Linked DNA regions of Homo sapiens. The protein of the gene in region 1 purifies or fractionates together with the protein of each later gene. This does not show direct contact. Each region holds a gene or a part of one and is shown in the gene's direction. Other genes may lie near its edges.

What was found.
Region 2: the proteins of MICALL1 (region 1) and PLEKHA7 purify together in Homo sapiens (co-immunoprecipitation; one large-scale study listed by IntAct). This does not show direct contact.
Region 3: the proteins of MICALL1 (region 1) and CAPZA2 purify together in Homo sapiens (affinity purification with mass spectrometry; one large-scale study listed by BioGRID and IntAct). This does not show direct contact.
Region 4: the proteins of MICALL1 (region 1) and CGN purify together in Homo sapiens (affinity purification with mass spectrometry, with the first as the bait; one large-scale study listed by BioGRID). This does not show direct contact.
Region 5: the proteins of MICALL1 (region 1) and CREB3L2 purify together in Homo sapiens (co-immunoprecipitation; one large-scale study listed by IntAct). This does not show direct contact.
Region 6: the proteins of MICALL1 (region 1) and KIF13B purify together in Homo sapiens (affinity purification with mass spectrometry, with the first as the bait; one large-scale study listed by BioGRID). This does not show direct contact.
Region 7: the proteins of MICALL1 (region 1) and RAB8A purify together in Homo sapiens (co-immunoprecipitation; 2 studies listed by IntAct). This does not show direct contact.

What each region holds. Positions count from the first base shown.
Region 1 is NC_000022.11:37,916,297-37,919,796, forward strand, and holds part of MICALL1 (MICAL-like protein 1), read left to right. Parts: intron 1-1,410; coding exon 1,411-1,499; intron 1,500-2,739; coding exon 2,740-2,882; intron 2,883-3,500. UniProt on the Homo sapiens protein: Lipid-binding protein with higher affinity for phosphatidic acid, a lipid enriched in recycling endosome membranes. On endosome membranes, acts as a downstream effector of Rab proteins recruiting cytosolic proteins to regulate membrane tubulation.
Region 2 is NC_000011.10:17,004,415-17,007,914, reverse strand, and holds part of PLEKHA7 (pleckstrin homology domain-containing family A member 7), read left to right. Parts: intron 1-3,500. UniProt on the Homo sapiens protein: Required for zonula adherens biogenesis and maintenance. Acts via its interaction with CAMSAP3, which anchors microtubules at their minus-ends to zonula adherens, leading to the recruitment of KIFC3 kinesin to the junctional site.
Region 3 is NC_000007.14:116,904,087-116,907,586, forward strand, and holds part of CAPZA2 (F-actin-capping protein subunit alpha-2), read left to right. Parts: intron 1-90; coding exon 91-297; intron 298-2,176; coding exon 2,177-2,256; intron 2,257-3,500. UniProt on the Homo sapiens protein: F-actin-capping proteins bind in a Ca(2+)-independent manner to the fast growing ends of actin filaments (barbed end) thereby blocking the exchange of subunits at these ends.
Region 4 is NC_000001.11:151,514,387-151,517,886, forward strand, and holds part of CGN (cingulin), read left to right. Parts: intron 1-3,500. UniProt on the Homo sapiens protein: Probably plays a role in the formation and regulation of the tight junction (TJ) paracellular permeability barrier.
Region 5 is NC_000007.14:137,992,087-137,995,586, reverse strand, and holds part of CREB3L2 (cyclic AMP-responsive element-binding protein 3-like protein 2), read left to right. Parts: intron 1-3,500. UniProt on the Homo sapiens protein: Transcription factor involved in unfolded protein response (UPR).
Region 6 is NC_000008.11:29,066,778-29,071,070, reverse strand, and holds the end of KIF13B (kinesin-like protein KIF13B), read left to right. Parts: intron 1-304; coding exon 305-567; 3' UTR 568-3,793; downstream 3,794-4,293. UniProt on the Homo sapiens protein: Involved in reorganization of the cortical cytoskeleton. Regulates axon formation by promoting the formation of extra axons. May be functionally important for the intracellular trafficking of MAGUKs and associated protein complexes.
Region 7 is NC_000019.10:16,114,889-16,118,388, forward strand, and holds part of RAB8A (ras-related protein Rab-8A), read left to right. Parts: intron 1-3,337; coding exon 3,338-3,398; intron 3,399-3,500. UniProt on the Homo sapiens protein: The small GTPases Rab are key regulators of intracellular membrane trafficking, from the formation of transport vesicles to their fusion with membranes.

The sequences.
Region 1 (3,500 bases):
CCTCGCAATGTATTTTCATACCTTCTCTAATAAATCTGCCTTTTGTAATAAAAAAGAAAAGGTACAGTTTGTGCCTTTCATACAACTTGGCCCCTAAATGCAAACCATTTTTATCCCATCTGCTGCTTAAGCAAAGGAAACAGTGATGTGTTCCAACTCTGGAGGCAAAGCTGGCTGTTCGACTCCCCCAGATGGTCCTGTACTGTACTTTCTGGGCGAGTGGAGGCATTTCAAGAGTGACTTTGACTAGCCTTGACTTTTTACCAGACTGGGTAAGTTTGGAGCCTGCCCCTGGCTGAGATGTCGTGGTGCTGTGCTGAGTGTTCAGCTGTGCCACCACGCTCAGTGGGTGCCAGTGACCCCGGGCACAACAGACAGACCCCCACCCTGGAGGAGCTGCAGCCTGCTCAGGGAGCCAGGGCAGGAGTGAAGGAAGCCGAGTGGCTGTGGGAAATCAGAAAGGGGTTGGGGAGTAATGTCAGGATGAAGTCCAGCTTCTTCATGTGGCTTCTAAGGGCCTCTCCCCAGTCAGCTGGAGCCACTCCTGGCACCAACCATAGTGTTATTGAATTTATTTCTTTTTTTGAGACAGAGTCTTGCTCGGTTGCCCAGGCTGGAGTGCAGTGGCGCGATCTCAACTCACTGTAACCTCCACCTCCCAGGTTCGAGCGATTCTCCTGCCTTAGCCTTCCGAGTGGCTGAGTGGCTGTGATTATAGGCGCGCACCACCATGTCCAGCTGATTTTTGTATTTTTAGTAGAGATGGTGTTTCACTATGTTGGCCAGGCTGGTCTTGAACTCCTGACCTCAAATGATCCACCCACCTCAGCCTCCCAAAGTGCTGGGATTATAGACGTGAGCCACTGTGCCCGGCCTGAGGAGCTGAGTCTTAGAGGAACCCAGGGTGGGTGGGTTTGTTCTGGTGAGGGGGTGTGCAGGCCGGGTTCTGGCCCCCAATACCCACTTGGGGATAGGCAGGACAGCTCCTTGTCAACCCCAAGGAGGCAGCGCCTTTCCTGAGCTGTCAGGGCAGCACCATATGGTTCCTTTCTTTTCCTTTCCTTCACCTCCTCTACCCTGGTGGCAGGGAAGCTGCTGGTGTAGCCACACGCGGGTGCTGTGTTCTGTGATCGTACTGTTGCGCCATTGTTCGGATTGGCTCTGTGCAGTAGGAGTCACTCTCCCCATTTGATGGAGGTTCAGTGAGGTTCATGGCTTGCCCTCAGCACTTGGCTTAAAACTGGAAGCGTCCCCGGGCCCGTGTGAAGCGGGAGCCAGCTCCTGTCCCACTGCATTAGGTGGTCTGCCTTTAGGTGATGGCTACAGGTCTCAAATCTTCAGCCAGGTTGGGACCTCCTGGGACTCCAGGATCTCCACCTGCTTCAGGACCCCTTTCTCATCTCTTGGCAGCTGGTGTCTCGCCACCCAGAAAGGGCCTTGCACCCTGTTCCCCGCCGTCTGTAGCACCCACTCCAGTGGAACCAGAAGATGTGGCTCAGGTAGGCAGATACCTGGAGAGGTGGGAGGGCCAGGGGTGGAGGGGGCGAGTTATGTGGACGACTATCATTGCAGTGACTGGGTCATGTGAGGAAGTTAGCCCTGACAGTGTTCAGAGGGTGCTTGTTCTCTGTCCCTGCCCTATTGGCTTTGGGAACAGGTGTCCCTGACTGGGGCAGTGAGGCATGGGTCAGGAGGCCAGTCCCGTTCTATGGGCAGGGAGCCCTACCTCCTTCTCCAGGACTCAGGTGGGGTCAGGAGATGCCAGCTCTGGCAAGGGGAGAGAGGGCAGTCCACAATGCTGACTTCACCATCATGGGACTGTCAGGAGTTACACACGTAGTAAAGCAAAGATTCCCCTTGATTCCTGTGGAGACAGCTGTAAACTTCCCGGCTTGATTTCCTTTAATCCTCTCAACAACCCAGGGAGGTCAGCATTATGGGCCCTGGTATACAGATGAGGAAACTGAGGCTCAGTGAGGTTTAGTCATTTGTCCAAGGTTACTTAGTAAGGAAGTGGGGGCCAACTGCCAGTCACCTGTTTGAAGGGCTTAGAGGAAGTGACACCAGCCCTTCACATCTGGACGGCACCTTACAGTGTGTAAAGGGCCTTCCCCTCCTGCTCCCATCTGCTCTTTGCTGGAGGGAGCTAGCCCCAGGGTGGGTGCTCCATGAGGGTACATGGGGCTGAGGCTGGCAGGGGTTATACAGTTTCATTCTGCAGGTGGGACCCAAGCCCACACTTGAGCAGCTTGCTCAGGTTCACTGTGCTTGGATGTAGAGAAACTGGGATTTAAATCCGTGGCAGTTCTAGGAGAGAACAGAAAAGGCAGCTGAGGTCGGCCTGGGAGGACAGGAACCTGTCAGGGGGGCTCCCCCGCAAAGGGGAGGAGGAGGGGGCAGGAGCCGCCAAGGGGAAGGGGCTGCACAGCCAGGAGCTGCCTTCCTTTGGGGAGGGAAGCCTCAGAAACCGGAAGTCAGGATTTTCGTGTTTCCGCACTGGCTCAGTGACCTTGAACAAGGCTTTCCTCCGTTCTGGGCTTTGGCTTCCTCACCTGGGAGACAGTGGCAGCCTCCTGCCCTCTGCCCCTCCTGGGGCCCTGATGAAGTCCATTTCCACCACGAAGCCTGGTGCACACTTGAGTGACGGTGGCCGTTGGAGGGAGGGAGAGGGCAGTGATGTGAACAGGATGGCTGGTGACCATGTCCTGCTCCCAACCTCCCCCACCTCGTTCTCTGCAGGGCGAGGAGCTCTCCTCAGGCAGCCTGTCAGAGCAGGGCACCGGCCAGACCCCCAGCAGCACGTGCGCAGCCTGCCAGCAGCATGTGCACTTGGTGCAGCGCTACCTGGCTGACGGCAGGCTGTACCATCGCCACTGCTTCCGGTGAGTGGCCAGGGCCGCGTGTTACCCCCGAAACCAGGGAGGGGGCTACCGTGGGTTCAGCACACACAGTGCGCCAGGCACCTTGCCAGGCCCTTCACACCAGAGCCCCTGGCTTATCCCCATTTTACTGATGAGCAAACCAAGGCTTAGTGAGGGGAAAAGCAGTTGCTCAGCCACATGATTCGAGACAGAAACAGGGTTAGAGCACAGGGGTTTTCCTTCCAGCGCCTACGCTTTTTGAGGATAACTACTGGATGAGGATGAAGGAGCACTTTAAAAGCCACGTGTACTTTAAAAGCCATTGAAAATTAGCCGGGCATGGTGGTGCACACCTCTAATCCCAGCTACTCGAGAGGCTGAGGCAGGAGAATCGCTCAAACCCGGGAGGCAGAGGTTACAGGAAGCCGAGATCGTGCTACTGCATTCCAGCCTGGGTGACAGAGCGAGACTCTGTCTCAAAAAAAAAAAAAAAAAAAAGGCCATTGAAAAAATAAAATGAAATATTTTAGCTTAAAAAATTTTTTTTTGGCCGGGTATGGTGGCTCACGCCTGTAATCCCAGCACTTTGGGAGGCCGAGACAGGTGGATCACCCTGAGGTCAGGAGTTTGAGACCAGCC
Region 2 (3,500 bases), on another chromosome or scaffold:
TAAAAACTGCAATTACTTTTGCACCAACTGAATATCTTTAGGCCGGGCGTGGTGGTTCACACCCAGTAATCCCAGCACTTTGAATGGCCAAAGCAGGAGGATTGCTTGGGCTCAGGAATTTGAGACTAGCCTGGGCAACATGGTAAAACCCTATCTTTACAAAAAATACAAAACTTAGCCGGGTGTGATGGTGCATGGCCATAGTCCCAGCTATTAGGGAGGCTGAGGTGGGAGGATCACTTGAGCTTGGGAAGCGGAGGTTGCCGTGAACTGAGCTCACGCCACTGCACTCCAGCCTGGGCGACAGAATGAGACTCTGTCTCAAAAAAAAAAAAAAAAAGCATCTTTAGAGATCCTAAAATGTAAAATTTTGTTCTTCTGTAGTTTTTCCCTTGACTTGTCATTTAAAAAAAAATAAAATTGCTATTTATGGGCATGGTGGCGAGTGCCTGTAATCCCAGCTACTTGGGAGGCTGAGCCAGGAGGAACGCTTGAACCCAGGAGGTGAAGGTTGCGGTGAGCCAAGATTGCACCATTGCACTCCAGCCTAGGCAACAAGAGTAAAACTCTGTCTCAAAAAAAAAATTTTTTTTTCTATTTAATGTAATTCTACATAAAGAAAAATTAAGTTTAAATTATTAGCATAAATTTTATAGTTATTTCTATATTGTAGAATATAATGTTTTAAATGTGAATATCAGTGCATTTACCTCATATGCTAGGAGTTGCCACCACCATGCCCCACTCCAAGACACCATAGAGCACAAGCACCTGTATCCATGCCCCCCTGGGCAGCAGGGAGGAGCAGGGAGCCCAGGCAGGGCTTAGGGCTCCAGGAGGCTGGGAGTGGGCAGTTAAGAACCTGGTCCTCCGAGGCAGGGAGTGGGGACCAGGCATGAGTCCTTCAGAAGGTTACCTCTGGAGATAATGCCAAGTATCAAGGGTGTGTGTTTTGTATTCAGCAACCCATTTTTTAGTCTGAAATCAAAGGGAGTTGGAGAGTGAAGGATGAACCAAATGTGACAGATGTTCAGTTGGGGATTTTGTAGACACCAGGCCTAGAAGGCCCTTAGGAAAGCCAGTGAATACTGGACAGCCCAGGAGGCTGCCCTTAATTATGACCTCACCCAACCGACAGTCTTCTGGGCCACCCCTAGGAAGGAGTCTGTCCTGTCTTCTATATTTTCCTCCCTAGATAAATGTTGAACTTCATGGCAGTGAAATTTATCTTGTAGAATGTCAAACCTATTGATTCACTTATATATCATCTTCCTTTTTTTTTTTTTTTGAGACTGAGTCTTGCTGTGTCACCCAGGCTGGAGTGCAGTGGCGGCATCTCGGCTCACTGCACCTCTGCTTCCCGGGTTCAAGCGATTCTTCCACCTCAGCCTCCTGAGTAGCTGGGACTACAGGCATGCGCCACCATGCCTGGCTATTTTTTTGTATTTTTAGTACAGATGGGGTTTCACCATGTTAGCCAAGCTGGCCTTGAACTCCTAACCTCAGGCAATCCGCCTGCCTTGGCCTCCCAGAGTGCTAGGATTACAGGTGTGAGCCACCGTGCCTGGACGTTTTTTTTTTTTTTTTAGATGGAGTTTCATTCTTGTTGCCCAGGCTGGAGTGCAGTGGTGTGATCTCGGCTCACTGCAACCTCCGCTTCCCTTGTAGCTGGTGTTACAGGCGCCCACCACCATGCCCGGGTAATTTAGTAGAGACGGGGTTTCACATGTTGGTCAGGCTGGTCTTGAACTCCTGACCTCAGGCTGTCCACCCGCCTTGGCTTCCTAAAGTGCTGGGATTACAGGCATGAGCCACCATGCCCAGCCTTATTTGTCATCCTTCTTATTGAGATGTTGCTGGGAACAGCAGTCCCAGAAACTTTATTTCAAACCTGGGGGTAATAGTCCCACAAAGAATTTCTGGGAAACTAGCAGCTTACATATATACTAAAATAGAAATTCTGAACCCCCTCATTGAAGGTTAAGAAAGGTTTTCCCAGCTTGGCAAGTTTTGGCAGAATCCCATGCTTTATATTTCACTTCCTGGTTGCATTTTCAAGGGTAAAAACTGGTTCATGGATTTAAACGTTAGGTTCTGTGGGAAAGGAAAAACAGTGAGTGTTGTTTAGAAAGCGAAAGGAAGGATTAGGAGCCATGATTTATACCACATCTCCAAAAAGAAACTTCTTTAAGGAAACGTCTTTAAGAAAAATGGTTGCAAGTTGCTTTTTAAGGCTCTTTACCCATGAGAGGAGTGTGTTTTAGAGATAGGACAGATGCTGGGTTGGGAAGAGGTGTTTTCATGTGATGAGGGTGGGTGTAGGTTTCTTGTGCCTTGATGGCACCCTCTCCATTCTCTCTCTCTCTCTTTCTTTTTTTGTTTTGAGACAGAGTTTTGCTCTGTCACCTAGGCTAGACTGCAGTGGCATGATCTCAGCTCACTGCAACCTCTGCCTCCTGGGTTCAAGCAATTCTCTTGCCTCAGCCTCCTGGGTAGCTGGGATTACAGACACCCACCACCACGCCTGGCTAATTTTTGTATCTTTAGTAGAGACGGGGTTTCACCATGTTGGCCAGGCTGGTCTCAAACTCCTGACCTCAAGTAATCTGCCCACCTTGGCCTCCTGGAAGTGCTGGGATTACAGGCGTGGGCCACCGGGCCCAGCCTCCATTCTCTTTTGATGTCTATGGGAGTAAATTTGGTGCTTCCTAAATTGAGAACTTTGGAAAAAAATTAAGACAGCACTTTAAACAGAAACGTGTGCAGGGGCAGGGAGATGCCAGTTTACCCCCCCCGTTAAGTCTGAGGTGACAGAGGGCTGTAGGAAGACTGCTTGTTGGCTTTTCAGCCTCAATATGTGGAATATTTGGCAATTCAGTGAGGTACCTGCTCTTGTTTTCTATCTTCAGAGGACAGCACAGGTTTGAATCTCTTTGCTCAGTGTAAGACAGCATCATCTCAGCAAACTGGCAGGTATCTTAAGTAAATATTGGCAGAGGGAAAAACACGGAGGAATATGGTTGTATTTGCCTGTTGTTTTTAAATGGCTGTCAAAACATTTGCTTTTCAATTTTCTGAAATGAGAAATATTTTGAGTTAATGTTTTATCATTTACAGAGTATTTCACGAACATTCTCTGGTTTGTCCCATAATTATTGCATTTTTTTAGTGCGGGAATTTGGGCTCAGAGGGGTAAAGTGACTTCTCTAAAGTTGTATACTGGGCTGGGCATGGTGACTCATGCTTGTAATCCCAGCACTTTGGGAGGCCGAGGTGGGCAGATCACCTGAGGTCAGAAGTTTAAGACAAGCTTGGCCAATGTGGTGAAACCTCATCTCTACTAAAAATACAAAAATTAGCTGGGTATGGTGGTGCGTGCCTGTAATCCCAGCTACTCGGGAGGCTGAGGTAGGAGAATCACTTGAACCCAGGAGGCAGAGGTTACAGTGAACTGAGATTGCGCCATTGCACTCCAGCCTGGGCGACAAGAGTGAAACAGT
Region 3 (3,500 bases), on another chromosome or scaffold:
AGGAAGAAGCTTAAATGAGTGTAATTATGATGTATCAATATTGAAATGCTGTTTTTTTATTTTTTTTCTAAATTCATTCCATCATCAAAGGTATTGATAACAGAACATGGCGACTTGGGAAATGGAAAGTTTTTGGATCCAAAGAACAGAATCTGTTTTAAATTTGATCACTTAAGGAAGGAGGCAACTGATCCAAGACCCTGTGAAGTAGAAAATGCAGTTGAATCATGGAGAACTTCAGTAGAAACTGCTCTGAGAGCTTACGTAAAAGAACATTACCCGAATGGAGTCTGCACTGTAAGTCATCAGTAGCAGCTTTGTGTGTGTGTTTTGTGTAAATGTGAGTCTTTAGCGTCTCTTAAAATTTACAGTAACTTACAGAATTGACATTGTATAATTTGTCATTTTTTTCCTTAAATATTTCTAAGAATGTTTACTATTTTTTCAAGAAATTCTGGATAATAAATAGATATACTAGGATGGCTTAAAATAGAGAAATGGTTGTACCTTGATTTAAATCCATGTAGAAATTCTAATACATTGATTAAAGGAGCAGGATATGGTGAGATTCTGTAATCTTATGTTCATGACTCGTCTCAGTTTAGATCAAAGTTATTTTTATTAAGTCACAGAAATCTTAGAACAAATAAAATTACTTGGAAGTAAAATTATGTGTTTCTGTATTTTACAGTTACATTTCTTGTGTTTTTTGTGTGGTTCTTTCGTAGGTTCAACCTATTTTTATATTTTCAAGAAATATATGGCTGGGCACAGTGGCTCACGCCTGTAATCCCAGCACTTTGGGAGGCCGAGGCAGGTGGATCACCTGAGATCAGGAGTTCGAGACCTGCCTGGCCAGCATGGTGAAACCCTGTCTCTACTTAAAAAAAAAAAAAAAAAAAACAATTAGCCGGGCGTGGTAGCACGTGCCTGTAGTCCCAGCTACTCGGGAGGCTGAGGCAGAATTGCTTGAACCCAGGAGGCAGAGGTTGCAGTGAGCCGAGATTGCGCCACTCCACTCCAGCCCAGTCAACAGAGTGAGACTCTGTCTCAAAAAAAAAAAAAAGAAAAGAAAAAAAAGAAATACAAAATATGGTAGTAGGAATACATTTCTTTTTTAAAAATTTCATAATATTATTTGTACCCTGACAGGCTTTTTTAGCACCCCCAGTTTGTGCTTCAGTGGCCTTTTCCATTGCCAGAGTGATCTTTTGAAATGCAAATCAGGTCATTAAAATTCCCTGCTTGAAATCCTTCAGAGATTTCCCGTTGCCTGGACTTAAGAGTCCAGGCTTTTGAAGGTGGCTTAAAGGCCCTGTGACCACGTGGCCTCTGCTTACCCCTCCAACCTAACTCTACCATATATCCTAGTTTATACCTGCTTTCTCAATGTAATTATTAATATCACCAGTAGCGTACCCCATTTCTTTCTTGGAAGTTTCCTGGTTAGGACAAAAATTCATATGGTCTGCTTAAGTATCTAGCTCTCTGATTATTTGAGAAATATTGCAACATAACCTCAAATATCTTATGTATTACTTGAATTATAACTTGTTCATCAGGATTATTTTGGAGGAATAACGAGAGTTAAGGGAGTACTTGTTAGAGAGTCCTCATTTATTCTAGAGGATTGAAAGGCACAAATTAATTATTATTTTTAAAGCAGTAGGCAAGAGGTGAAATAGCATTGTGATACATCACAGGCATTCTCTTAACGACCTTTCTCACTTATAAGTAAGTTAATTTATTCCAGTACTTTTAAGTGACTAAAGAAACAGCAGCCCCTAAGATTGTGAAGTGAACAAAGGTGATAATCACAAGCTAGGTCCAGTTTTCACTTGCATGGAAAAAGCTAGATTAGCATCTGTATGTTTAAAATAAATTATCTACTTATGAAAGTAGATTATCTAGAATGTTCGTGAATATTTCAGAGTACAATTAATTTTAATGAATTGTATTTTATTTAGTGTCCCCTTTTGTGGTCCACTAATAATTTGATTACGCATAAATATTTGAGAACATGTTTTTCTAGCTACTATATTGGAATGATGGCCTACTTTGTATTTTATGTGTTCTTGTCAAAGTACTGTACAATTTGCAGTATTTTATAGATTTTTAAAGTTGGACATTCCATGGCCCTAAATTCATTCTTATGCTTATTTTCTTTGCCAATAAGGTGTATGGCAAAAAAATAGATGGACAGCAAACCATTATTGCATGCATAGAAAGCCATCAGTTCCAAGCAAAAAATTTTTGGTAAGTTAAAATTTTGGATATTGGGGAGTTTTGGCATTGTTTTAAGTCTTTGTAGTTCTTGCTTTAGTGATTTGGGCTACACCTTGTTTGTTTATGATTAAGAACAATTTAGAGATGGTATAAAATTTTAGCCTTTTGATATAAGGAAGGTAAATTTGCTCAACAGCCTAATCACTAAAGGTAGTGGTAAATCTGTTGACATTCAGTGGAAAGAGTATGGGACTAGCAAACAGCATCCTGAGGGAGCATGTGTGCCTGCGAGAACACCAGTTGGCAATCCATATGCTCATTCTGTGAAGGGGCTGTTCCTGAATGAAACTTATGTGCAGGAGAACAAAGATAATTATAGAACAAAAAATGATACTACTTTTGTGAACTTTGTGACTCTGAAGTAGAGGATTGCTTTGTACTTGGTTAGCCAATGTGAGGAAATAATGACATGTTTTATACAATGAGGAAGATTACATTCATGCCTTGTAATTTTGTGTACAAATAATTCCATTATTCCTTATAAACTTCAAGCCCTCAGGAGCACTGATTTACCATACTGGTCTTGGACCTTTGACAAGTTGTTGGTCATTTTTATTCTTAGACAAGACTATTTCTGAGTACCTGTTACAAAATTCTGAGGTTCTTTAAGACTTTACAAGTCCATAATTGAATGAAATCTTTACGTTTATCCCTGTTTTACATGCTGAGGTCACCAGAATAAGTATGGTCATAATATTTACCTTTTAGTATATTAGCCTTTGACTTACTAGCCAAGTTGGTTGGTGGTGCTATTAAGGGTAAAGTAACAGGTAACCCCTGTGGGCCAGTTGGGTTCATGGCCCAAGGTTGCTCCACTGCTTAGCCATCTCAGAAATAAATGCAGGGTTGCAAGGTTAACCAAGAATATTTGGAGGAATGCAGATCCATCATCACTGAAGGAAAATCAATGCCATATGTGAATGTATGCCTTAATGACTAGCCACAGTTCCCTAAAGGTTCTGTCATATAGAGTTACTTTTATGGACTTAATATAAGTGTAGTTTCTCTGTGTTGGGTCTAAAATCTTGTAGCATTAATCTAGAATCCTGAAACAATATTTATAAAATTATTACTAATTTATGTTATTTATGCCAGGAAACACATAATAAAATCAATCTTGTTGAGATGGAGCTACTATTAGAAGAAAATTCTTTTTACTACGTTCTTCTTTATAATACATTGGAGCTGTTACAATAAGCTTACTAATTTGTCTT
Region 4 (3,500 bases), on another chromosome or scaffold:
TGGCAATCTAGGCACTTCTGGTTCTAAGATCATGACTACATAGGGCAGCAAGTCTGGACCAGGAGGAGGTCCTGTTGCTAAGAGGTCCTGTTACTGAGGCAAAGTAGATTTGTCCTGGGCAAATCTCCCCACTGCTGTGCAAGTGGGCTTTAGTTCAGGATACAGCCTTTAACAAATATTTGTTGACATCTACCACGTGTCCAAACACCTGGGGACACAGTGGTTAGCTGCTAGCCATGGTCTTTGCCCTCCAGGAGCTTATTATCTCGTAGGGGAGACAGACAGGAAATAATTACTCCAATAAATGTATAAATATAAACTGGAGTAAACCTGCTGAAGGACAACTATAGAGCGTATAACGTGGATCTGACCTGGTTTGTGGGAGGCTGATTTGTGAGAACTGACCTTGTTTGTGGGAGTGGTGGTCAGGGAAGGCTTCTCTGAAGAAGTGACATCTTTCTATGAACCAGGTGAAGCCAAAAGTGCCTGTTGGACAAAGTAGCATGTGTGAAGGATGATATTTGTTGTCAGCTTTGTGATAGTCACATGCTAAATGTTTTCATGTTTAATATCTTGTTTTTCTCTCCTTTTTATTAAATTAGAACCCAAGTTCAATAAAGTACAAACATCTTTTTTTTTTTTTTTGAGATGGAGTCCTGCTCTGTGACCCAGGCTGGCGGATCTCGGCTCACTGCAGCCTGTGCCTCTCAGGTTTAAGCAATTCTCCTGCCTCGGCCTCCCCAGTAGCTGGGATTCCAGGCGTGCACCACCACGCACAGCTAATTTTTGTATTTTTAGTAGACGTGGGGTTTCACCATGTTGGCCGGGCTGTTATTGAACTTCTGACTTCAGGTGATCTGCCTATCTCAGCCTCCCAAAGTGTTGGGATTACAGGCATGAGCCACTGCGCCTGGCCTAAATAAAGTACAAAGATCTTAAGGGTATAACTTGGTACTTTTTTATCATTGTATATGCCCATATAATTATTTATTATCTCATTCTCACAGATAATAACCTTGTGGGGTATTATCATTATACCCATTTTACAGATGAGGAAACTGAGGCACAGAAAAGTTGTGGGTTTTTTGTTGTCGTTGTTGTTTTTGAGACAGAGTCTTACTCTATTGCCCAAGCTGGAGTGCAGTGGTGCAATTACAGCTCACTGCAGCTTCAACCTCCTGGGCTCAGGTGATCCTCCTGCCTCAGCCTCCTAAGTCGCTGGGACTACAGGTGTGTACCACCATACTCGGCTAGTTTTTTGTATTTTTTGTAGAGATGGGGTTTTGCCATATTGCTCAGGCTGGTCTCAAACTCCCGAGTTCAAGTGATCCACACACCTTGGCCTCCCAAAATGCTGGGATTACAGGCGTGAGCCACCACACCAGAAAAGTTGTGATTTGCCTCAGGTTGCATACATCAGGTGAAGAGCAGAGACAGGATTCCAGACCAGATCCTGACTCTAGCCCAGTGCATTTTCTTCTACTGGATGAGTGGTTTGGAGAACTACTTTACCTGTCTGCCTTCACAAGCCTTTTAAGATGGGGTGATAAAAGTTTGGATGTGCTGTCTCCTCAGGGAGAGTGTATTGCTTTCATCATTTTCTCATGGAGTCCCAGGGCCAAAAAGATGAAGAACAATTCCTAATAAAGGGCTCTTCTCTCCCTGTTCCTTTCTCTTGAGAATTGCTGGGAATTCTAAGAATGCTCTTCTTCAGATAGACCTTCCCCACCAAGCCCTTTGTCACCTGTAGCTCTGCCTCTCCCATCCCTTCCCCTCCCTTCTCATCTCACCCTGGCTTGCTAGCACTTTACAGTCCCTGAAAGGGGCCTTGCCAAGTTTCCTTGGCCCAGAACTCCATGGGGAGGTTGAGTTGGGTATGTTTGTGTTTCTGTCTGGCACGTTAGAGGCTCATCCTCCAGTTTGGTGCTAGGCTCTGGTGGAGACTAGCAGAAGGGGTGGGGAAGCTGAATTTTTTTATTTGCTTGGAAGACAATCTCTCCCCCAAGTTCCTGGAGCCAGAGCATACCTGGAATACATTCCATTTGCTGACTCTGAGCTTTAGCAATGTGGACCTGGGAAGCTGGCCTATGGATGGTGTTGGCTCTGGCTCTCAGCTGAGACAAGTTTACCTGACCTGGGGCCCCTTAAAGTGGCACTTTTTTTTTTTTTTTTTGAGATAGAGTTTCACTCTTGTTGCCCAGGCTGGAGTGCAATGGCGTGATCTTGGGTCACTGTAACCTCCGTCTCCCAGGTTCAAGCGATTCTCCTGCCTCAGCCTCCCGAGCAGCTGGGATTACAGGCCCCCGCTACCACGCCCGGCTGATTTTGTATTTTTAGTAGAGACAGGGTTTCACCATGTTGGTCAGGCTGGTCTCAAACTCCTGACCTCAGGTGATCCACACGCCTTGGCCTCTGAAAATGCTGGGATTACAGGCGTGAGCCACCATGCCCGGCCGAGTGGCACAGTTTTTAAACCACATTTAAATATTTTTGGCTGGGTGCGTGGCTCATGCCTGTAATCCCAGCACTTTGGGAGGCTGAGGCGGGCAGATCACCTGAGGTCAGGAGTTTGAGACCAGCCTGGCCAATATGGTGAAACCCCATCTCTACTAAAAACAAAAATTAGCCGGGCATGGTGGCAGGTGCCTGTAATCCCAGCTACTCGGGAGGCTGAGGCAGGAGAATTGCTTAAACTCGGGAGGCAGAGGTTGCAGTGAACCAAGATCACGCCATTGCACTTCAGCCTGGGCAACAAGAGCAAAACTCTGTCTCAAAAAAAACACAACCTTTTCTTGAATAGATAATACATCTACGTGGTTCCAAATTCAAAAGGGACATAAGAGATATACAGTAGAATGTCCACTCCTTTCTGCTCTTCCAGAGAATAGAAACTCTCCCATCCCTGTTCCTAGTCCTCAGTTCCTCCACCTCAAAGGCATCACTGCTATCAGTGTTTTTAAGTTTCTTTCCAGAAGTGGGATGATATACTTTGAGGTCTTCTATATTTTAAATGAGCTCTGGGAGAGAAGGCCCCCTTTTCTCCAGTGAGATGGAGGTATCTGCTCAGCAGGGTGTGGGTTCTGCCTTCCCTTGGTGGGAGGAAGGGAAGAAGGCACACAGTGTTTTTTTTTTTTTTTTTTGGAGATAGAGTTTTGCTTTTGTCACCCAAGCTGGAGTGCAGTGGCGCAATCTCGGCTCACTGCAACCTCCACCTCCCGGGTTCAAGCAATTCTTCTGCTTCAGCCTCCTGAGTAGCTGGGATTACAGGCATGCGCCACCACGCCTAGCTAAGTTTTTGTATTATTAGTAGAGACAAGGTTTCACCGTGTTGGTCAGGCTGGTCTTGAACTCCTGACCTCAGGTGATCCACCTGCCTCAGCCTCCCAAAGTGCTGGGATTATAGGCATGAGCCACTGTACCTGGCCACATGGTGGTATTATATGTATGTATGAAGATCAAGTAAAATCTTTTTTTTTTTTTTTGAGACAGGGTCTCACTCT
Region 5 (3,500 bases), on another chromosome or scaffold:
CCAAGGCAGGTGGATCACAAGGTCAGGAGTTCAAGAGCAGCCTGGCCGAGATGGTGAAACCCTGTCTCTACTAAAAATACAAAAATTAGCTGGGCGTGGTGGCGGGCGCCTGTAATCCCAGCTACTCGGGAGGCTGAGGCAGGAGAATCCCTTGAACCTGGGGGGTGGAGGTTGCAGTGAGCCAAGATCATGCCACTGCACTCCAGCCTTGGTGACAGAGTGAGATTCTGTCTCAAAAAAAAAAAAAAAAAAAGAAAGAAAAGAAAAAAAAAGAAATAGAGCTCCTTGTTGGCTGATTCAGCAGTTCCTCAATGGACCTTGGTTCTGCCCATGTGCAGCTTTCATCCTCAGGTTGGATGTGTGATGGACATAGGAGTTACAGGGGTTACATTCAAAATGACAACATCCAGAGGAAGAAGAGAAGTTGTCTCTTTCTTGTGTCCCTTTTTTAGAATGGAAGAAACTTTTCTTACTAGCCCACTAGCTGATTTTTCTTAAAGCTTTATTGGTAAGGATTCGGTCATATGACCATTCTTAAGCCAATGGCTGGAAAGGAGAATGGGATTTATATTATCAGCTTAGATTAATCATATGGGGATGGAGACTCAACCAGCATGACCATTGGGATCATTAGTAAAATAGTCTGAGTTAACAATTCTTTCCTTAGTCAAAAGGTATGTTTCTTTTCTCATGAACATGGGCTAGCAACTAGAAAATTTAAAATTCACAGTAATTTGCCCTGGGCGCAAAACAGTAAACCCAAGTACTGTGCCACTCGCAGAGTTCTTTTGTTTTTTGTTTTTAAATAGAGACAGGGTCTCCTTATGTTGCCTAGGCTGGTCTTGAACCCCTGGGCTCAAGGGATCCTCTGCCTCGGCCTCCCACAGTGCTAGGATTACAGGCATGAGCTATCACGTCCGGCCCAGCAAAGTTCTAAGAATATTATTTAGCTGTGCTACCAATGCCCAGTGAAAGAAGACTATAGATGTAGAAATAGCCTCTTGAAAGTGCAGGGAAAGGCTAGGGAGGGGTGGGAGCCAGGAGGAGATTATGGCTATGTCTTGACTCACTAACTAGGAGATGTAGAATTAACTGTATTATCTGGACTCTTGGCGTCAGAGTAGAATACCAGGGCTGGAGGTAGCTAGCTGAGCCTGTAATCATGCTTACCATGCAGGACAAGAATGATTTGTTCTGTTTGGGATCGACAGCAGGTGGCAAGCTAAATGCCATTTTTCAAAGAAGCAATTTTTCCAGTTGCATATGGCTGTTCAAATATTGATGAGGGCACATGTGCCTGTCTGCAGCTAAAACTGCCGGCCTCAGCCTGACATGGCTCTACGCTGTCTGGTGACTCTCTTGGGGTAAATAGCCTTAAGCCTTAGCTGGGCATTTGGTAGGATTGAGGCCTATGGTTGCAGGGCATCTGAATTGTCCAAATGAGTGATCTTATGAGTGAGGGAGTGCTGCCCTTGTTTTCTGCCCCTGTGGAATCAGGATGGAAAGGAAATAATGAGACCCACTGTCTCTGGATCAACCTTGAGCCTATTTCTCTTTTTCCCTGCTCAGTGGATGCACCCTGGCCTTTCTAAATGAAGTGCTAAGGGATCTTGATTTTTCCTTGAATCAAATTGTATAGGTTATTCATGAGGCACATGGGAGAAGATGGGCCATTTTATCTATGGGGAATGTAAGACATAGAGCAGTAGAGATTTGCTCAGCACAAGTTCCTTGAGGACAGGAGACATGACTGTCTCTTCTATACCCTCATGGTCCTTAGTCAAGTGCAGGATGCCCAGAGAATCGTAAGTGCTTGATGCATAGTTAAGTAGAGTGAGGCAGTCCTGGAAAATGGATAAGCTGGGTGGCTTTGGCCTGTTTTTATATATTTTTAAAACTCTGGGCAAGACGTGGTAGCCCATGCTTGTAATCCCAGCGCTTTCAGAGGCTGAGGCAGGAGGATCGCTTGAGCCCAGGAGGTTGAGTTTACAGTGAGCTGTGATCACGCCTCTATACTCCGGACTGGGCAACAGAGTGAGACCCTGTCTCAAAATAAATAAATAAATGAGCAAACAAACAAATAAACTCTGGATTCTTGTAAACGGTTTTGCAAATGTGAAAATTCAGTATAATAGTGACTTGGGTAATTCAGTGTTGATATCTTTTCTTGTTTTGATTAGAGAACAAGGTGGGCGTGGGGTGATTGAAACAGTCCCTGTTTCCAGTGGGAGTGGAGTTGATGGCATGGTGGAAAGGGTGGGCTTTCAAGGCAGGCCATTTTGATGTTGAGGGACACAGGCTCTCTGGTGACCTTGGGTACATTACTTCACCTATTTGGATTTCAGTTTCTTTGCATGTCACTGCCTGATCCATAATAGAAGTACTTTTCCAACCTATCCCCTAAGTCAAATGTCTTCTCTTTGAGAACAAGGTGTCCCAACCTTAGGAGTCTGACATCATTCAGAAAGTGGAGAGAGCCTGTCATTATTCTCTCTCATGCATCTTTATTTCCTCTCCTCTCCAGCTCCTACATTGTGCTGTAAACACAGGCCTCTGCCTTGAACACATGTTTGCCAGATGCTCCCTCTTACTCATTTCTTTTCTCTTGTTTACTGCCAGGTTTTCTCAAGTGCGTGGTCACCAGCCATGGCCTCCATTTCCTTAGTCTCTACCCTGTATCCTCTGCCCGCTGGGTCCTACTGCTCAACCTCTCCCTGGCTGCTAAATCCAATAGTCTTTTCTCTGTCCTTACCTGCAGGGCCTCATGGGACTATTTGGCAATACTGACCACAGGATTGTCTCATAACTCGTTTTTGCTTTGGCTTCCATGACACTCTGGCAAGCTTAGTTCTTCCTCCTTTTCTGGCTTCCATACCAGCTGTTAAATGTGAGTGTTTTGGTACTTGGCCTTCTCTTCTCTCTGTATGTTCCCCTGGGCTCTGCTATAAACTTCAGTGCATCTGGTTCTCAGTTTTTTATACTTGTTATTTGTCTTTTGACGAAAAGCAGATCTTTGGAGTTTGACTCAAGCCTGCTAGGTCCACCTGAGCAGCAGAACAGCTCTGGCTGGGTAACCCTTGAATTTTCATGTGTTTCTTGATGTGTTTCAAAGAAGAGCTGGGATGTTGATCCTTCTTATCGCTGCACCCATTTATCTCAGGGCATGTTGAGTGACTCAGCTCTCTTGCAGTGTAAACCCAAGAGGAGCTCATGGGTCATTCCTGGGATTCAGCTGCTTCTACAGTCCGTGTCACTCATTAGAGGCAAGCTGTGTTTTGCCTAGACTTTTGCTTGTACTTTGGCTTGGGAAACCCTCTGTGGCATCCTGTGGGGGTAGGTCTAATCTTTTCGACTGTGTGGAAGGTCAATTCAAAAGTGAGACGTAACTTCTTAGATCACGTACCATATTTTCCTCTTGTGTGTACAGCTGCTCTGGGGCTCAGCTACAGTTACCTCATGTTGAATTGCCTGCTTTTGAGTTGCTGTATTCTGGTGTAGGT
Region 6 (4,293 bases), on another chromosome or scaffold:
ATGCTTCCACAAGGCACTCCCCAGGGCCCCCAGGGCCTGTCACCTCCTACCTGAGGCTGCAGGACTGGGGCTGTGCATCCTTGGTCACCACTGCTCACTGTCCTGGGAGGCGGTCACCCCAGGCCCTGGCCACATTCATTTAGCCAGTCCCTGCCAGACAATGGCCAGTGTCCGAGTGCTGGCTGTGTAGGGCCTGTGCGGGGGGGTGGCAGTGTGGGCACATGGCCTCTGCAGAGGTAAGGGAGGTGCAGGGGGCCGTCTGCAGCTCGGCTGCCCTCCATATCACCCTCTCCTTCCCCCGCAGGTAAGAATGACGGTTCCATCGGCGGGAAGCAGTACTTCAGGTGTAACCCTGGCTACGGGCTGCTGGTCAGGCCCAGCCGGGTCCGCAGGGCCACGGGCCCTGTGCGGCGGCGCAGCACAGGACTCCGGCTGGGTGCCCCCGAGGCCCGCCGGAGCGCCACCCTCTCGGGCTCCGCCACCAACCTGGCCTCGCTGACAGCTGCCCTGGCCAAGGCCGACAGGAGCCACAAGAACCCTGAGAACCGGAAATCCTGGGCCAGCTGAGCCGCTGCCTTAGGGCGAACTTTTCTGGGGGTGCCCGGCCCCTTTTGAGCCCTGCCAGTGACAGCCCTGAGGAGCCAGGAGCCCGGTGGCCCCTTCCCCAGGGGCAGGGCGATGAATGCTTTTTGCACGACACAGGGCTGGTGACCTCCCTGGGCCTCTGGAAGCTTTGTTTCTTCTGTACCCGGGTAAAGTGGGGGCCTCAACTGTGCCTCCTCAGGTGGATGGAAGGTTCTGGGTGCCCGCAGGGGCTGGGGGATGCTAGGACTGAGACCCTGGGTGGTGCAGCGCCTGGTGATCTTGCTGTGTGCCTGTGCCTGGGGCCTTATGTTGCTCTTTCTATCATTTCCATTCTGGTGGCCCCACTAATGTCTTAACCTAAACCATAATTGTAACCAGTGCCTTTCCTCCCCACTGGAGGGCAAGCCCCCCCACCCACCCAGGATGTCCTGGCTCACTCCGCAAGCCCCCCAGCCTCCCACCCTGGTCCCAGTTTCCCGCAAAGTGCCTCTGGGGGACCCCCCAGCCTCCCACCCTGGTCCCAGGTTCCACAAGTGCCTCTGGAGGGCCCTGGGCTCTGGCAGATGGTCCTGGTGCCCCAGACGGGGGCCGAGGGCCTGAGCCCCCCCATCCCTCCTCTGCCAGGGTTTCTTAGCGGTTTCTCTGTGGATGTTTTGGCATCTTTAGACACCTGGAAAGTCTCTTATGTTTGCCGTTTATTCCCTTCACAGAAGGCTTGGAATGTATTTATTTATATTTATTTTTTCAAAATCCGAAATCATTTGCGAGCCGCAATCGTCGTCTGCCTGTGTGGGGGGGCCCAGGGCCTGCCTTGCACGTTGCAGCCTCTCTGGCCATTGCAGAGCTGCTGGCCTCCTGCCCAGGTGGAGGGTCCTGGGGACGGCAGAGGATAAAGCCCCCTCCTCACATCCCTCTATTGCGGATCCACAGTGGCCTTACTCTTAACTTGGATGAGAGCAAAAACCTGGGAGAATGATGTGCTTCTGTAGTCGGTGACAAAGGAAGAGGCATTGCTACTTTATTTGGTGCACTTTTGGTTTCTAGGAAGGTCTTTGGGTCATTTTAACTTCTCGGCAACTCCCAGACTCTCAGAGTGTGGGGCTGGGGCCTGGCGGCTGGGCTGGTGCAGGGAGTGTGCTGGTTAGTCTCCAGACCCTCACAGCAGCCACGCCCCCAGGCCCACCGTGCATGGTGTGGGCGGGACAGCCGGAAGCTTCCGGGGTGGCCTCCACCTCCTGGCTGGGGCACTTATGCTCCCAGAGCCTTTGGTGCCAGGTTTGTGGGATGGGGGTTAGCGTCTATGTGTGGAAGGCCACCAATCTAGGGACAGGAGTCCTGGGTCAAGATTCACACAGCCACCCTTGGAGCTGGTTTCTAGTTCTCACATTTAGTCAACATCTAGAAAGCGCTGCGGAAGGCTCTGGTTCTCTAGGGACTTGAAGGCGCCAACAGAGTAGTCTCCATGGTGGGCCTGTCCCAGCCCTGGCTGCGAGGACAGGTTGTCTTTCTCTCCCCAGTTGGCGAGGGACACGAAGGCTGCGGCCGGGCTGGCAGAGGGCCCGGCCCCTGGGGGGAGGCACTCCTCCAGGGCTCTCCCTGTCCTTAGCCGATTTTGAGGGAACCCTGTGGCACCTGTCCCTGGATGAAGAGCTGTCACCTCTGCCTTGCCCTTTAACTCAACCCGCTTCCCAGCACAGCGGCTTTCTTTTTAAAACCTGTTTCACTGAGAAGTTTGTTTTTGGGTCCGCTGGTGTCACTATGGCCTGGGTGAGAGGCCAGCACTGCTGCTGCCCTGAGGGGAAACGCCTGGGCCGTGTAGTGGGGACGCTCTGGGAATGGTGGCGGACGGGCAGCGTGGGTGGGACCTGGCACTTCGTGGTGGCTGAGCCATCCACCCAGCAGCGGCCTCCTGTAGCACCATCTTGGGAAAGTCCTGGGGGACGTGTGTGTCGTGCTTTTTACCATCGGTTTGACTTACAGTGGAGTAGAACGAGCCAGAGTTCCTGACTTGAGCAGGTGGATTTGGGCCCAGGCCCTGTTCACTCTTGCTTCTCGGTGCGGACTAATGTCAGCTTGTGGCTGGGAAAGAGGGATGTGCAGTGACGTGGTCACCAAGGCAGTGAGCCCCGCTGACCCCGGGCCAGCACTTGGCAGGCAGGAGGTGCGGTCTCCAGAGTGGTGGGCCAGGGCGGGCTGGCCTCCGTCTTCTATCTTCTTTTCTTGCCTCCCTGACCAGCAGACTCACCTCCCAAGAACGCCTGCCCGCCCACCCGCCTTAGGACTCCCGATGCGCTCCTGGAAGGCCCCAGGAGTGGCACCTTAGTGTGGGTCGGCCCGCAGATGGCACCCAAGGCCGGGAAGGGCAGTAACTGCACACGCGGCGCTGTCAGAGATGGGGGTGGGGGATGCTTCTGGGGGCCCTGCCTCCCCATTGTGTGCCCAGAACATCCCTGGCCCCACCCCGCCACTTCCCTCGGGCCCTTATGAAGGACTGAGGCTCCAGGGTGAGAAGGCTCACTTCTGCCCCGGGCACTGCGTCCAGCAGCAGAGGGGACAGGGGGCAGGTGTGTGACTGGGTTCCTGGGTACCCAGGCCTGACCAGAGGGAGCGGGAGGGCAGAGGTGAGGAGGGGGAAGATGTTTCTGGGCCTACCAAGGTTCAACAAGAGAACGGAGCTGGGAATGTGACTGCTGGAGCCTGAGAGGTGGAGGAGTTCTGATCCCCCGTTACTTCCTAGCATTTTCTCCTCTTGCCTTAAAAGTTCCCTGTATGTGAAACGGGAAGTCCTGAGAGTGTGTGTTGGTGGCTGTGCGCACGCACACAAGACGGGAGTCACCCTGTGCTTCCTGCCCAAGATACTGACCCATTGAACCCCCAAAGCATCTTTCTCTCCACAAAGTCCGTGGTGCCTTCCTGGTGGGCTGCAGACACTAATGGTGTTGGGGGGTCTTGGAACAGCTTCTCTATGTGTGGATTCGTGTAAATGCGAAGAGTTCACATATAAAGAAGTGACTTTGATTCTGTGATTATATTGATTTGGTACACAGTAAATGGGAGTTTAAAAAATCCAAAGACTCTAATGACTTGTAAAGACTCTAATGATTTGTATCATGTAATGAACTAAACCACCTGTAATTTTGTACCGTATGTGTCTTTCCATCAAATGACCAACAGCTTCTCAATAAAACCAGACCATTTCTCACCTGCATCATGTCTGAGGCCAGTCTTGTTGCTTCTCCTTCCCCTCACCCCAACATAGGGTTTTGGGGCTCCTGGCAGGCCATCCTGTCATGGTGTGGCCTTGTTCTCAGCAAAGGTGGTGCGGGGCTTTTCCAGACTGAGACTGGGAGGAGGAGGATCAGGGAACAGCAGCAGGCCGTGCTCGCCTCCCCAGCCCATGGACTTCAGAGGCTGAACTCTTCATGATTTGGACTTAAGAGCCCAGGAGGCCCCCCGGTTCTGAGTCATCTTTCCTTGTTTGGACTTCAGCCCCTTACTGAAGCCAGGAACCATGGAAACTTTCTGGGGCCCTTCGACCCCAGGTAAGTGGTGCTACTGGGAGACAGGTGACCTGGTAGGGACTCTCCTTGGCTCTCAGGCATGACTCCACTGTCTGCTGTGACCTTCGTGTTGGTCCCCACACTGGACCTCCCCTCTCCCCTCAAACTGGGGTGAGAGGACTTCTTTCCCCTGCTGCAGAGGTGGGCA
Region 7 (3,500 bases), on another chromosome or scaffold:
GTCAGACCTCATAATTCTTAGGCCTCATAAAGTTTACACTTCCTAATTAAATTTGGCATGTTAATAAAACCCAGAGGAGTGTAGGGCGGAGTGCTGCTGTGGAGCTTGGCCAACCTAACAGTGCTCCTCGATTTTTTGTGTCCCTGTACACGTGTGACAGGAAATGGGGAATGTTTTAGGAAGCCCAGGCACACTGGGCTGTCTAGTCCTGAAGCAGTATCACCTTAATGCTTAAAGGTGATTCCATAAATTAGCCATACGTGGTGGCGCTTGCCTGTATTCCCAGCTACTCAGGAGGCTGAGGCAGGAGAATCGCTTGAATCCAGGAGGCAGAGGTTGCAGTGAGCCAAGATTGTGCCAGTGCACTCCAGCCTGGGCAACAGAGCAAAACTCTGTCTCCAAAAAAAAAAAGAAGCAATTCTATATTGGCTGAGTGTACCTCTGGGTTTTCTTTATAGACAAGGATTGAGTGGCTATTCATTTTCTGCCACTCAATCCTTAACATTTTGCCAAAAGTTACATTTCATCAAAGCCTATTCTCAGAAGCCCCATAGATCATTTGTGGTGTGAACTTGGCCCTGTAGCTCCCTGGAATGGGTTCTCACCAGCCTGGCTCGGCGCCACTGCCTCCTCAGGGGCCCATTGATTCCTCCAGTGAAAGGGTTGGCATTTGAGAAAGTGCTTTGTGAACCGCTCAACACCGCGTAGACCCTGTTGCGCTTTAATACTTTGATCCAGCCATATTTTGCCAGTGTCTTCTGTGGGCCAGGCAGCCATTTTGGCAAGAGGGCTGCAGAAAGGACACAGGTGAGTCAAGGTGCGTGCAGGACTGGGGTACCAGCTTCTAGCAAATGTGTATTCAACCCCTGTGTGTTCAGTCACTGGAGGTAATAGCAGTGGATGAGACTTGTCAGTTCCCTGCCCCAGGGAGCTTACGTTTGAGAGGGCGAAAGTCCAGTGCTGGGGCTGGATGGATGGAATTAGCATCCCCACCCTGGGTTCAGAGAGGCCCAGCCAGGCCTGGGCCTCAAGTCTTCCCCAGCAGGCACTTGAACAAACTCCTGGTGGCAAAGGCTGGGTCTGGCTGTTTCTCATCTACATGGGCCATTATGATCTGCAAGCATTATGCCCAGGTCCATGCAGCAGATACATACATGTATGTCAGTTATGTTAATAAATAGGTAAAGGGAGAACTGATGAGGATGGTCAGAAAGGTTCCCCTGAGGAGGGAACTTGAATGGGAACCTGAACAAAGGGATAGCCAGGTAGCTACAGAAGAAAGAACTTTCCAGGGCAGGGAAGAGCAAACATCAAAGCCCCGAGTCAGGAGCATGCTTGGAATGTTGAGGAAATCGCTGTGTGGATGGTGTGGCCAGAGAGAGCAGGTCATGAGCCAGAGTGCTGAGAGGTGACCAGGTTAGGCAGGACCTTGACACACATGAGCAGCTGTTTCCACTTTATTCGAGGGAAGTGGGGCAGGGAAGCCACTGAAAGAGGCTTTAAAAAAAAATAGCTTTATGAGATAGAATTCGCATACAGTTCACCCATTTGCAGTGTACAATTCAGTGGCTTTGGGTACATTCACAGAGTTCCACAACCATCACCACAGGCAATTTGGGAACATTTTTATTATGCCAAAAAGACACCAACCCAAGGCCAGGCACGCACGGTGGCACAGTGGCTCACGCCTGTAATCCCAGTACTTTGGGAGGCTGAGGTGGGCAGATCACGAGGTCAAGAGATCGAGAACAGCCTGGCCAACATGGTGAAACCCTGTCTCTACTAAAAATAGAAAAATTAGCTGGGCATGGTGGCGCGTGCCGGCAGTCCCAGCTACTTGGGAGGCTGTGGCAGGAGAATCACTTGAACCCGGGAGGCAGAGGTTGCAGTGAGCCAAGATTGCACCACTGCACTCCAGGCTAGCCAAGATCGCACCACTGCACTCCAGGCTAGCCAAGATCGCACCACTGCACTCCAGCCTGGTGACAGAGAAACTCCATCTCAAAAAAAAAAAAAAAAAGGATACCAACCCTTCCAGTTTCCCCATGTGCCCCCCCAGCCCCAGACAACTGCTAATCAGCTTTCTGTTTCTATGAATGAGCCTATGCTGGACATGTCTGTTAATGGAATCTCACACTAAGTGACCTTTAGTGTCTGGCTTCTCTCAGCATCCTGTCTTCAAGGTTCATCCACATTGTATAGCATGGATGAGTACTCCGTTCCTTTTTATGACTGGGTCATATTCTGTTGTATGGTTGGACCACATTTTGTTCATCCATTCATCTGTTGGTGGACATACTAGAAAGTTTGGAGCAGAGGGCCGGGTGCGGTGGCTGATGCCTATAATCCCAGCACTTTGGGAGGCTGAGGCAGGCAGATCATTTGAGGTCAGGAGTTTGAGACCAGCCTGGCCAACACGGTGAAACCCCATCTCTACTAAAAACTCAAAAATTGGCCGGGCATTGTGGCAGGCACCTGTGGTCCCAGCTACTCGGGAGGCTGAGGCAGGAGAATCACTTGAACCTGGGAGACAGAGGCTGCAGTGAGCCAAGATTGTGCCACTGCACTCCAGCCTGGGCGACAGAGCGAGACTCCATCTCAAAAAAAAAAAAAGAAAGTAAGTTTGGAGCAGAGGTTAGCTGTGTAACATGGTTAGGGTTATATTTTTGAAGGCTGGGGAGGGGACTGCGGGTGAACAGTGGGAGCCTGGGGAACATCAAGGTGGCTGCGAGGTCACCGTGGGGAAAGGGGATGAAAGCGGGAGGTGAGAGACAAGGAAGATGGGGTCAGGAAGGCTTGTTAGGAGGTGATCTTCAAGGGGGCCTTAAAGGAGGAGAAGTGTGCCTAGCTGACGGGCCAGTGGGACACAGACCACCCGCAGAAAATGAATAGCATGTACAAAAGCTGGGGGCAGGAGAGAACGTGACCATGTGCATTGACGCATGGTGGGGCCTAAGGCCCTGTGTGCCTGGGGGTTGGTCAGCTGCAGGGTGTTGGGGAGCAAGGGACTCAGGCCTGCAGAGGGCTCTGTTGAGACCCACTCCGTACAACTGCCTGGGGTGGGGAGGCGGGTTCAGCTGGCAGCAAGGGACAAGAGCAGGGCTTTGCCACCCGCGCCCCCTGGGTTTGCTCTGCACTGCTCCCATCAGCTCTTGGAGAGGGAAAATATCTCCAAGTGTTTCCAGATCTGGATATTCCGACATCCTGCATGCCCAGCACCAGGCAGGGTCTCCGTAAGCCACAACAGCTGTCACCTGCACAGGTTGGTGGCGCCCAGCTCAGACACAACTTGGGAAATGGGCTGACAGTGACGTGCCTTTTTTCTTTTTTCTTTCAGGAATTGACTTTAAAATTAGGACCATAGAGCTCGATGGCAAGAGAATTAAACTGCAGATATGGTAAGAGTCATTGTTCTCTGTCATTCTCTCCACCTGGCAATGGCTTCAAGCCAGAAGCCCTTGGCCTTCTCCCTCCACCGTCCCTGTGACCTTGGCCTCCAT